Homo sapiens: one gene and its partners. The protein of the gene in region 3 purifies or fractionates together with the protein of the main gene of each other region. This does not show direct contact. Each region holds a gene or a part of one and is shown on either strand. Other genes may lie near its edges.

The links.
Region 1: the proteins of ITPR1 (region 3) and TRPC1 purify together in Homo sapiens (affinity purification with western blotting, with the first as the bait; one study listed by BioGRID). This does not show direct contact.
Region 2: the proteins of ITPR1 (region 3) and ERLIN1 purify together in Homo sapiens (affinity purification with western blotting, with the first as the bait; 2 studies listed by BioGRID). This does not show direct contact.
Region 4: the proteins of ITPR1 (region 3) and UFD1 purify together in Homo sapiens (affinity purification with western blotting, with the first as the bait; one study listed by BioGRID). This does not show direct contact.

Annotation. Positions count from the first base shown.
Region 1 is NC_000003.12:142,804,034-142,806,210, forward strand, and holds part of TRPC1 (short transient receptor potential channel 1), read left to right. Parts: coding exon 1-145; intron 146-402; coding exon 403-597; intron 598-1,974; coding exon 1,975-2,177. UniProt on the Homo sapiens protein: Forms a receptor-activated non-selective calcium permeant cation channel. Forms a heteromeric ion channel with TRPC4 or TRPC5 that has reduced calcium permeability compared to the homomeric TRPC4 or TRPC5 channel.
Region 2 is NC_000010.11:100,162,030-100,165,529, forward strand, and holds part of ERLIN1 (erlin-1), read right to left. Parts: intron 2,067-3,500; coding exon 1,975-2,066; intron 1-1,974. UniProt on the Homo sapiens protein: Component of the ERLIN1/ERLIN2 complex which mediates the endoplasmic reticulum-associated degradation (ERAD) of inositol 1,4,5-trisphosphate receptors (IP3Rs).
Region 3 is NC_000003.12:4,496,348-4,499,847, reverse strand, and holds part of ITPR1 (inositol 1,4,5-trisphosphate-gated calcium channel ITPR1), read right to left. Parts: intron 1-3,500. UniProt on the Homo sapiens protein: Inositol 1,4,5-trisphosphate-gated calcium channel that, upon inositol 1,4,5-trisphosphate binding, mediates calcium release from the endoplasmic reticulum (ER).
Region 4 is NC_000022.11:19,462,194-19,465,693, forward strand, and holds part of UFD1 (ubiquitin recognition factor in ER-associated degradation protein 1), read right to left. Parts: intron 3,082-3,500; coding exon 3,009-3,081; intron 1-3,008. UniProt on the Homo sapiens protein: Essential component of the ubiquitin-dependent proteolytic pathway which degrades ubiquitin fusion proteins.

The DNA.
Region 1 (2,177 bases), about 140 Mb from region 3:
AATCTTTGTCACAAGATTTAGCTATGGAGAAGAACTGCAGTCCTTTGTGGGAGCTGTCATTGTTGGTACATACAATGTCGTGGTTGTGATTGTGCTTACCAAACTGCTGGTGGCAATGCTTCATAAAAGCTTTCAGTTGATAGCAGTAAGTTCATTCTTTTAAAAACTTTATATTCTCCTCAGACCATACTAAGTGCATACAATAGATAAGATAGCCAAAGATTATAAGATTATAAGAATTGAAAAATAGTATTTTTAAATTAAATATAGATTTTTAAAATGTAAGTAATGTATAATAATTGCAAATGTTGAACAAAATTTTTCTGCAAGGTGTGGAAACATCCCCCATATTTGTGTGTGTATTAATATTCTAGTTTGCTTTTTAATTTGCCTTTTATATAGAATCATGAAGACAAAGAATGGAAGTTTGCTCGAGCAAAATTATGGCTTAGCTACTTTGATGACAAATGTACGTTACCTCCACCTTTCAACATCATTCCCTCACCAAAGACTATCTGCTATATGATTAGTAGCCTCAGTAAGTGGATTTGCTCTCATACATCAAAAGGCAAGGTCAAACGGCAAAACAGTTTAAAGGTAAGAAATTAGAAGCTTGAATGGCAACATAAAAGTTTTAACAATTCCTAATCTCAGATATTTCTTAAAGCGTAAGTATGCAGGTTCCCTAAGGGCTGTGACTGTCTGACTTTTTTTCACTGCTATATACCCTAATGTACGGCATCGCATCCAACATAAAGTAAGGATTCAATAAATACTATTGAGAGTGAGAGGGCTGGGTGCGGTGGCTCACGCTTGTAATCCCAGCACTTTGGGAGGCTGAGGCAAGCACATCATCACTTGAGGTCAGGAGTTTGAGACCAGCCTGGTGAAACCCCATCTCTACTAAAAACACAAAAACTAGCTGAGTGTGGTGGCACATGCCTGTAGTCCCAGCTACTCAGGAGGCTGAGGCAGGAGAATTGCTTGAACCCAGGAGGTGGAGGTTGCAGTGAGCCAGGATCATGCTACTGCACTCCAGCTTGGGTGACAGAGCGAGACTCCACCTCAGAACAAACAAACAAACAAATATATATATACACACACACACACACACACACACACACACACACACACACATATAATTATTAAGAATGGGAGATAGTACTGAGATTTTTTTTTTTACTTTTCAGATTCCTCCAATATATAAAATTTCATCTCATAGTTTTAAAACATGGGAAATATTCAAAATACCCATTCTGTCACTGTAGCTAAAGAATGACTACTAGAATCAGCTCATATTTTTCTGGTTCTTCTTGAAAGTTATTCAATACATCAATAATTCAATATATGTTACTATAAACCAGGGGTTGGGACATTTTTTCTGTAAAGGTCCAGATAGTAAATACTTTACACTTTTCAGGCTGAGACAAAATCAGAGATATTGTAAGCAGTGATACAGTAAGAGAGAAAACAAATTTTCACAAAACTTTTATTGATAAAAGTCAAAATATAACAATAACAGTAATAACTTTTTAAATATAGGTCTACTAGTGAAAAGAATGGAGTTCCTTTTGGGAGGGGATAAAATTTCACTTAACTAGAGTTTAAAATTAGTGTTATTATCAATTGATGATAAATGTTCATCTGTAAAATCTATTCTTAGCTCACAGGCTGTAAAGTCAGGATATGGACCATATTTGGCTTGTGGGTTGTAGTTTGCCAATCCCTGCTATAAACTAAGGATTCCTAAGACTAATTTTTTTCAATCAAGATAAGCATAAAATTAAATTCATTAAACAAATATGCAGGCTATATTTGTTTTAAACAAGTGTTGAATATTATACCATGTAGTAGAAAAACTATAGTCTAATAAAGCATTTAAAGATGTGTTTGTGTCTGTGAATATATTTTTGAACTCTACCTCATTTAAATATCGTTTCTGCATATCCTTAGTATCATATTGTTGTTTTGAAGGAATGGAGGAATTTGAAACAGAAGAGAGATGAAAACTATCAAAAAGTGATGTGCTGCCTAGTGCATCGTTACTTGACTTCCATGAGACAGAAGATGCAAAGTACAGATCAGGCAACTGTGGAAAATCTAAACGAACTGCGCCAAGATCTGTCAAAATTCCGAAATGAAATAAGGGATTTACTTGGCTTTCGGACTTCTAAATA
Region 2 (3,500 bases), on a different chromosome or scaffold from region 3:
CATAAAGGAAAAGACTAATGAATTTGTCTACACAAAAACTACACATATATGTATATCGAAGACATTGTAAAGTTCAAAGACAAGCCACAAATTGAAAGATGTTGGAAATGCATAAATCTGAAAAAGGATCAGTATCCAGGAGACAGAAAGGACTCTTACAAATCAACTCAAAAAAGCAATCAAATAATGGGCTAAGGACATTAACAGGCAATTCATATAACAACAACAAAAAAGGAAACTTGAATGACCAATAAGCAATATTCAACTTTACTAACAATCAGGGAAATTCAAATTGAAATTATGTGATACCATGTCTTCCATTAAACAGACATAAAGTTTTAAGTCTGATAACTCCAAGGACCAAGAAGGATGTGTGGAAATGGGAATTCAAATATGGCAGCATAGAAACTGGATATCAAATATTGTTGAAGAGATGGTAAAATCAAAGAAGTACTTGAGAGAGCAATTTGTCAATATGTTGAATGTGAAGACATGCTACCCTATGACCCATCAATTCTACTTTGAGATAGCTATTCTAGAGCAGTGCTTCTCAAACCACCTGTGGAAAAATACCTTACCTTTTTGTGTGTGTATTTCAATTTATGAGGAACCAATAAATTGTAAACTATAACAAAAACAAATTACAGTACTAGAAAAAAGAAATTAAAAAACAAAAACATAAATATATAAGCTCTGATTTTTTATTTTTGATTCAACAGACATAAAACTGCTGTATTAAAATGCTATAAAAACTTCTAAACACTCATTCTCAATTTCTATACTCATCTCATTGAGGCTCAGAAACAAAAAGCTGGTGATAGGGCACTGGCCCACACCATACACTGAGTAATGCTACTCTATGGAAACCTGCACATGTACACTGTATCCAGGAGGCACTGGATAAGAATGTTATTGTGGCAGTGTTTGTAATAAGGAAAAACTAGAAACTACCTAACTCCTCATTGGTAATTCATTACAATAAAACTAGGCCCGCTCATAGAACGAAAAATGTAGCAGCTAAACATAAACGATCTACCATCTCACAGAGAATAAGGATAAAATGCCAAAAAAAGAAAAAATCCCTAGATCTACATGTATCAATATGAATAAAACTCAATGTTAGTGAAAATAAGGCAAGTTGTAAAATAAGAGTTTGGTAACATTTTTGTAGTTTCAAACAGGTAAAACAATTTTATAAACTCTTACACACTTACAGTAAAAGTATAAAAATATGGACAGAAAGGATATACATCAACTTCAGAATAGAAGTTAATCTGAGAAGAAAAGTCAAAGAGTAGGACCAGTGAACATACAAAGGAGGCTTCAAACAGATATTTAATTTTTTTCTTAAAAAAAAAAAAAAAGATCTGAAGGGAATAAGGCAAAATCTTAAGCTTTCATTATATTGTTCTCTGTACATTCCTCTATAATTGAATTATTTAATTAAAGATGTATTAAACTTTCAGCATCAACCGAGGGCCAAAGAGGGCAATCTAATACACAGTGACCTGGAGTATAAGGGAAGCCACTGTAATCTGAAATGAACTGTAAACAATCCTGCCATGCTTTCATAAACGGCACTACCTATCCAGGTAAAACTAAGTGCATGTCAACAACAAGGATGCATACTACAATCTGAAACTTTGGTCAAAAAACTTCCCTATTCTTAATCTGTACAAATGAAAATGCTATCCACAGACTCAAGCTGCCTATAAACCCTATCCATTCTCCCTGTTCTTGAAAGAGACAACAGTAGCATCTAACAACATGATGGACAGCCACAGCACATCATTAAGTACTGGTCTCACCTACTTTTAAAGGCTTTAGAACATCTGAATGTACAGTGGAGATTCCAGAATTCCCCACTACCTATGATGCAATCTTACTGAGTCCCATGATACCCAAAATGAGACTGACAAAGAACAGGACAAACAAATGTACTTAGAGACAATCATTTCAGAGAAATCCAAGTACCTATAACTGCCTTTTTCCTCTCTGTCTCAGCTTCTTTTTCCACAACCTTTTGTTTCTGTGCAGCTATAAGGAGTTTTGTCTTCTCAGCCTCCCTGTGAAGCAAAATGTTATAAAAATTAGAAATGATTCTCCTATGTGCAGTCACAGCCAGTAATTCTGACCCTACAGTGAGTCAGAGAACCGTTTTGTCAACATGAGCTTTTGGACCCATTAAGGTAGGTTAAGAGAGGTGTTACTTTATTTTACTTATAATAAATCTGAGGTTGAAAGATTCAATGATTTGCCCAAAGTCACCCAGAGATAGGAAAAAAATTTAGTACATTTGAATTTTAGTTTGGCTTTCTTCTCCTAGTTGTATTGTGTAAAGCCTGTGATTTGGAAGGGAATATATCAATACTTCCTTTGCTGTTAGACCTCCAGCTAGTCCATACAGCAGCTCTGTGCCAATTAGAAAACGGCACCAGCCGTTTCTACAGTCCTGCAGGTGCATGGTTTGACATGCAGAATGAAGCTGGGTTTCAGCCCCTGCCCTCCTCAGGTGGGCACCCATGTGCAGTGACCATATTTGTTGCACAGAAGATATAACTAGGTGGTAGTTATTAGGTAGTAAACTGGGGCTTACAGTAAGGAGAATTTTCTAAGGCTTCCAGTGTCTAATACAGGTTGAGCATTTCTGATCTGAAAATTTGAAATCCAAAATGCTCCAAAATCTGAAACTTTTTGAGAGCCCACATTATGACACAAGTGGAAAATTCCACACATAAGCACTTAAGGTAAACTTTGTTTCATGCACAAAATTATTTAAAATATTTTATAAAGTTACCTTCAGGCTATAGGTGTATATGGGACATAAATAAAATACCTTAAAAAAAAAAAACTAACCACTATACCAACAAGGAAGAACATAAATAAATTTTATATTTAGACCTGGGTCCCATCCCTGAGATATCTCATTATGTCTATGCAAATATTCCAGAATCTTTACAAATCCAAAATTTAAAATACTTCTGGTCCCAAGCATTTCGGATAAGGGGTACTAAACCTGTAATGGAAATGGCTGGCATATTACTAAGCATGTACAAGTAGCTACTGGGTAACCACGTGGCAGAAATGGTATAAGAAAACACTACTATCAGGTGCAAGGTTATACTGGATCATCCCAAGGTAGCTTTTAATTCTGGAATTCCAATAGTCCATAAAATTAAGAAAGATCCAGAATCATCTGAAAAGTAACTCCAATAGTTTCCCCAAAACACTTCCCCTCAAAGTTTCCCCTTTCCTCTGATAACATTGATAAAGACATCAAATGACAGTCTGAATACTATGATTTATTTGAGAGCAGAAAACACACAATATTCATTTTTCCGTCACCAGAAGCAATCTTTTTTTTTTTTTTTTTTTGAGATGGAGTCTCACTCTGTCACCCAGGCTGGAGTGCAGTGGCACTATCTCGACTCACTGCAAGCTTCGCCTCCTGAGTTCACGCCATTCTCCTGCCTCAGCCTCCCGAGTAGCTGGGACTACAG
Region 3 (3,500 bases):
CGAGGCAACATAGTGAGACCCCTTCTCAATTTAAAAAAGAAAAGAACCTAACTTTGATGAAGCCTCTACATCTAACTACCAAATTATGGTACCCCAAGGGGATACAGAAACATGTTAAACCACATTGCACTGATGCAGTCAGCAAAGTCTAAACTGTGGAGACGTGTATCACCCAGTTTCTTCGATAACAACAAAAAAAATGCATGGAAAAAAGATCTGTAGAGGAAATACAGAGATTAGTGAACATCAACCATTTGTAATGTATTTACCTTATTTGGATCCTAATTCAAACTGTTAAATACGTGTATGTGTAAAATTATTATATTATGTATTTTTTACAAATATCTATTTATATATGTATATATATCAGGGAAGTATAAACCTAGACTCAATAAAAATGAAAGGCCATCAAAGGGGTAGGCACATTTAGAAAAATGAGACACAGATGTCTGTTTATTAAAAAGATGTTCAAGATGTACAAAAGGTAATTTACCAAATGAGAGATACTGTGTTAGTCCCTTTTTATGAAATTTAAATATATACGTAAATTTTACATATGCATACTTAGAGGAAAAGCCTGAAACCCTAATCTCTAATAGTTGAATTGTTTTGTTTTGTTTCATTGCTCCTCTTTATTTCCTAATGTTGCACTACAATGAATATGCTATCTTTTTCTCCTTAAAAAAATTTTTTTAACAGAGATGGGGTCTTGCTGGAGTACAGTAGCTATCACAGATGCAATCATAGTATATTACAGCCTCAAACCCCCGGGCTCAAGTAATTCTCCTGCCTCCGTCCCCTGAGTAGCCGAGTCCAAGGTGTGTGCTACATGAATATGTATATCTTATGTAATAAGTAACAAAATTTGAGGTTTGCTTTAAGTTTGCACATGTGCAGGGGTCCACTTCACTTATTAAGGAGAATCACTGATGTGAAGCTTCTAATTCCTCAAGGATGCTGGAGAGCAGAATATTAGTCCTCCTTGTAAATATCTCTTAAAACGACACTGGATACAACGCAGGGTGGCGGTAAGACATAGGTTTGTGTTGAAACTCCAGGATTATCATTATGTTCTTACAATTTGCTCTCCAAGTCAACTGTACGTTCACCTATTTGTCAAACTTTCCTTTTCTACTGAAGTGAATTACAACTCCAGGTAAGTCCTGTCATTAACCAGACAGTCCAGAAATCTGGGTTTTACCCCCTATCGAGTTCCCATCTGGTATGTGATCCTGCCAACCTTACCAGAGTCTCTTCAGAAAGGACAATGTAGTTTTGTGATGTTGAAAACCACACTGAGAATTCCGTGAGAGTTTACAAGTCCTCAGATAAACCACTGTTGACCTGCAAAATCTGGTCCCTACAGGTCTGGACCTTGACTCCCTCTCCCTCCTGAACTCCTAGCACTCTCCCCTGGCCTTCTTCTCCTTCCTCCAACATGTCACAAACACTCCTATCTCAGGGCCTCTGTACTTGCTGCTCTGACATTTGGAACACACTTTTTCCCTGACAGCTACAGGGTCAACTCGTTTGCCTCCTTCAGATCTGTGCTGAGATGTCATGTAGTAAAGATCTAATCCCCACCTGAGTACTCCCTTAATACCCCTCATCATGTTTTGTTGCTTTTTAAAATTACTGTAAAATATACATAACATAAAATATACCACTTTGAAATGTTATAACTCAGTGGCACTAAGTACATTCACACTGTTGTGTGACATCACCACCATCCATTTCCAGAACTTTTTCATCTTTCCAAACTGAAACTCTATCCTCAATAAACACTAACTCCCCCTTCCTGTCTTCTATCTCCCCCAGCAATCCCCATTCTACTTTCTGTCTGCAGGGATCTGACTACTCTAGATGCCTCTATAAGAAAAATCATAAAATATGTGTCCTTTTATTTCTGGCTTGTTTCACTTAGCATGTTTTCAAGGTTCATCCACATTGTAGCATGTGTCAGAATTCCCTTTTTAAGGCTGAATAATATTCCATTGTATGTATATTTCACATTTTATCTGTTCATTCATCAGTAGACTTGTGTTGTTTCTACCTTTTGGCTACTGTGATAATGCTTCTACTGACACAGGTGTACAAATATCTGCTCACGTCCCTACTTTCAATTTTTTAAAGTATATACCTTGAAGTGGAATTGCTGGGACATATAGTAATTTTATGTTTAATTTTTTTTAGTAACTGCCATGCTGTTTTCCACAGCAGCTTCACCATTTTACATTCCCACCGGCAATGCACAAGGGATCTAATTTCTCCACTTGTTATTTTCTGTTCCCCCTTTAACCAGTTTTCTTTTTCTCCATAGCTTTTACTACCTCTAATACTATAATACTTACTTGTTTATTTATATTGGCTGCCTCCCACCAACTGAGATGTAAGCCTCTTGGGAACGGGATGGTTTGTTCATTGCTATATCCTGAGCACCTGGAATACATCTTAGTACATAGCAGGTGCTCAAGAAATTTGTTGAATAAAGAATAAAACATTTGAATCGCACACAACTTGAACAGGTCTTAGAGTCTGTTAAATAGATTTACCACACCATGTGCCTTAAACTACATCCAATTTAGAAATCTCAAAGTTGAATGGGTGACGGTTTCAGTGGTGTATCTGGCTTATTCTCATTAGCAATCATCTCAGAACCACAGAAACCAAGAGAATTGTAAGGAATCATAGAAGTTATGTCATTCACATCACCGACTTCAAGCCTTAATTGCATTCATCAATTGAGCTATGCACAAACTTAAAACAGCAAAAATGGAAAAAAAAAAAACTGCATGGACTTCTGGTTAACAGACAGCCTGCAAATGCAATGTGTTTTATTTTTAAAAATCAAACCAATAGTAAACAAGATAGACACTGGCCCTGTGGAGACTCCTTAATTAGATGTAGCCAAAGACAGCTTGACCTAGAAACCTAACTCCAGGCCTACTTTTATTTTGGCTGTTTTTTTCTGTTGTTCATATTTGGTGTTTGTTTTATTTTTGTTTGTTTTCTAAGAGCTGCTCATGAAGAAATCAGACAGTTTCCATGATATCTTTATAAATGAGTTGAAAAGCCATGTGATATTCCCCCCTCTGGAAGTCAGTTGGTTGCACACCATTGGATTAAAGGTTTCTTTTTTATCTTTCTCTCTGCCCACTCTCCTCCCTCCCCGCAATACCAACACCCTGATCTTCCTCACTTAAAAATATTTTGAAGAAAAGACTCTTGATCTTTCTGTGGAGTTCATCTATCTCTTTTTTTCTAAGCAACCATTCCACTTCTCATTCCTAAAGAAAAGATGCCAATTCCCTCCAAAAGACAATCACTTGGTTTAAATAGATACCATTGTCAACCCCAAATGACTTTCATGGGTCTCAAGGCAAGAGCCAGAGTAATTCACTTAGAACATGAAGAACTTTCCCTGCCTGATAAGAATGATATCTTGAAAGGATTTTCTGTTCTGATTTGAATTATTCAAAGAGCAGATTGTACTTTCAGTG
Region 4 (3,500 bases), on a different chromosome or scaffold from region 3:
TTTGCCATGTTGCCCAGTCTGGTCTCAAACTCCTGGACTTAAGTGATCCACCCACCTCAGCCTCCCAAATTGCTGGGATTACAGGTGTGAGCTACCACACCCAGCTTCAGCTATCTTTTTTATTAACTTTATTGAATTGTAAACAGAGAACACTTTAATTCTAAACAACTCTCTCAAGAGAGTAAGTCTAGGCCAGGCGCGGTGGCTCACATCTATAATCCCAGCACTTTGGGAGGCTGAGGCTGATGGCTCACCTGAGGTCAGGAGTTCGAGACCAGCCTGGCCAACATGGTGAAACCTCGTCTCTACTAAAAATACAAAAGTAGCCGCAAGTGGTGGCACATGCCTGTAGTCCCAGCTACTCAGGTGGCTGAGATGAGACAGGAGAATTGCTCGAACCCAGGAGGTGGTAGCTGCAGTGAGCCAAGATCGCGCCACTGCACTCCAGCCAGGGTGAGACAAAGAGAGACTCTCTCAAAAAAAAAGAGAGTAAGTCTAAAGACTTACTCTTTTCCAACATTTTAGATGTCATTTTTTAAGCTTCATACATTAAACATTATTACTGCTTTATATGGCAACATTTACCCTGGATTCATATTTGCCAATTTATTTATTCCCTATTCCTTCTTGCTTTCCTTCTAGGATAATGCTTATTCCTAAAGTACATGCTTTTAAAATTCCATTGGTAAATAACCTCTCTCAGATTTGGTTCATCTGAAAATATTTTCACTTTGCCCTTATTCTTTAAGGAAGGTTTTGATGATAGTTACTTGATACTGGCTGTAACTGTTGCTATTCAAAGACCTGCTACTTGCTGTTCTTCTGAAGGTACTGTGTTTTCTCCCTGCTTACCTCTCTGTATTTGGTATTTTCTACCTGTAGCTTATTCTGTTTGTTATACATTATAAATTTCCTGTCATGATGGGCTGACCACCAATTCTAAATCAATTTCAGTTACCATCTCTTCAGATTATTGCAATTCCTCCATTCTTTCCTACTGGGATTGCAATGGGCATGTTTGACTTTCTCAGTGTCTTCAACATCTCAAGCTCTCATATGTTCCATCCCCTTGCTCCTCTGTGTGAAATTCTGTTATTTCTTCAGATTCATCTTTCATTAACTCTTTTATAGCTGTTGTTTAACATTGTTTTTCAAATCTTTCTGGTTATTTTTGATAGCCTTTTGTTGCTCGCTATTATAATTCCATTTTAAAAAATATCTTTGAACATTTTATATCTAATTATTTTACATTTGTATCTAGAAATTCTAATGCTGATTTCCTTAGGGATCTAATTTTTATTGTCTCTGCTTTGGTGTAGTTTAATTATGTGTTCTTTGCTTGTTCAATTGACAGCAATCCCAAAGACGTAACTAAACTGGAGTGCTTTTTCCAGAGAGGATCTGTTTATTTCTCCTGAGACAATGACAACACCCACCTCTGTGTATATTTTACTGCTTTTAAGGGTTCCCGTTCAATCCTGATCTCTGACTCAGATCTCCCACTAGAGCACTGATATGGCCATCTGCCCTCAGGGCAACCCAGCTTAGAGTGTTTAAAATTCTCTATAAGCACAACAGTACATTAATCAGAAGGGCCCATTAGAGGATCTAGTTTTCCCTACTTCTAAAAGTGGAAGTTCAAACCTGTGTTTCAATTTTACATACACTCTTATATAATGTACCCTCCCTTAGAGTGCAAAGTATCAGTACTATCCTTTATCATCAGTTTAGGAGTTATATGTAGTATTACTACCTTAACATTAAAAACAATAACATTAAACTGCCTGTAATTAATTATAAAAGCTTAGAGTATTCAGTTAAGGTAAACGATACCTAAAATGTTCTCCACAAAGCTAAAGGGAACAAGATTATTTCTTAGTTTATTAAAAGGAAAAAAGAAAGTGTGATTCGAAACCCAAGGAACTGAAAAATAAGGTCAGATGCCTCAAATATGAGGAAACTGCCAGAGAATAAGCTGGATCCCTGCACTGACACCAAGGGAGTAACTGGCTAAACCACAGGCAGCTGTGACACAGCTGTGACGGCCCAGTCCCCGAAGGGACCAGAGAGTGCTGTGAAGGAGCTAAGTGCTAGCTTCAGGGAAAGCCCAGCCAAGCCAGGCTGTGGTCACTCCCGAACACTAAGGCTAGCCCTGGCAACAGCTCTGTGGGAGGGTCAATTGTCAACAGTCACAGTGAACAGGGGCACCCATATTACTGTGCTCCATGCCTGTGGTGGGACAGCCTGATGGCAGGATTGCCAACTATTACATCCTCCTGCAGGCATATTCCCATAGGTAATAGGAAAGTGAATGCTTTCTTGAATTTTGGACTAAGTCCTGTCATTTCACTTTACAGTTAAATTGTCTAGATCCAGACACCTAAACAGCATAAAATCAGGGATGAAAACAGAGGCATTCAGACCTGAGAGACTTGTGTCAGAAAGGTCAAGCCTAGAGAAGCTGCTAAGTGAAAACGGAAGCTGAAGAAAACAGGAGGTGGAGGAGGATGTGGGCTCCCAGGAGGAGAGGTGAGCCTAGGAGGTGTTGCCCTAAGGCAGAGCCAGGCTTTGCTTCTCAGATGCCACACAGCACTTGGCCCCACTGAAGGGCCTGTCAGCTTCTGTGGGGCAGGTATCCCAAGGACAAGGACCCAGCAGGGTTGTTATTGTGTCTCCACAGCCCTGCAAAGGGCTTAGCTCAGATTAGAGGTGCAGTGGGGACCTTTCAAACCAAGACAGAACCAGCAGCCTTGCCACCAAGGTACACAGAGGTATGACTAATAAGTCTATCAATGTTCCCCTGTAAATGCAATCTATCCTCAAAACAGAGTTACCAAATGAATTAGGGCTCTAAATATGAACCCGGGAAAACTTAATAACCAAACAGTAGGCAGTAATTAGGTGATAAGATCCAGGCATACGCTGCTTAAAAAGAAGCCCCATTCAAACATTAGAATGGACACTGCAGGTGGCTCTTGTCAGGAATGACCTGCATGAACTGGGCTCACCTTTTCATTATAGTTGATGGCAATCACATCCCCGGTGGTCAGACAGGCAAAGTTCCTAAGTGCGTTTTCTAATCTGCAGACACATTCTGTCAAGGCAACATGGCAAGATGGATACCTTAATCTGAAACAAGTTTCCATGTTAGATGATTACTGGTAGGTAGAGACTGTACCATGATGGTACTTGAAACACGAAGCTTTTAATACAATAAAGTACTACTTGGCAATAAAGAAGGATGGAACTCCTAATATGCAATAATATGGATGAAATGCCAAGCTGGGGTAACAAATGCCAAGCTGGGGGAAGGGGAAATAACCAACCACAAAAGGGCAGTGAGATTCCATCCACATGGAACCCTGAGAAAGACAGATCTATGAGGATGGGAGGTAGCTGAGAGGTTTCTGGGCCAGGGGATCAGGTGGGGACTGACAGGAAAGGACCTTTTGGGGACATGGAAATGTTCTGATTACATGGGTGTATACATTTTCAAACTG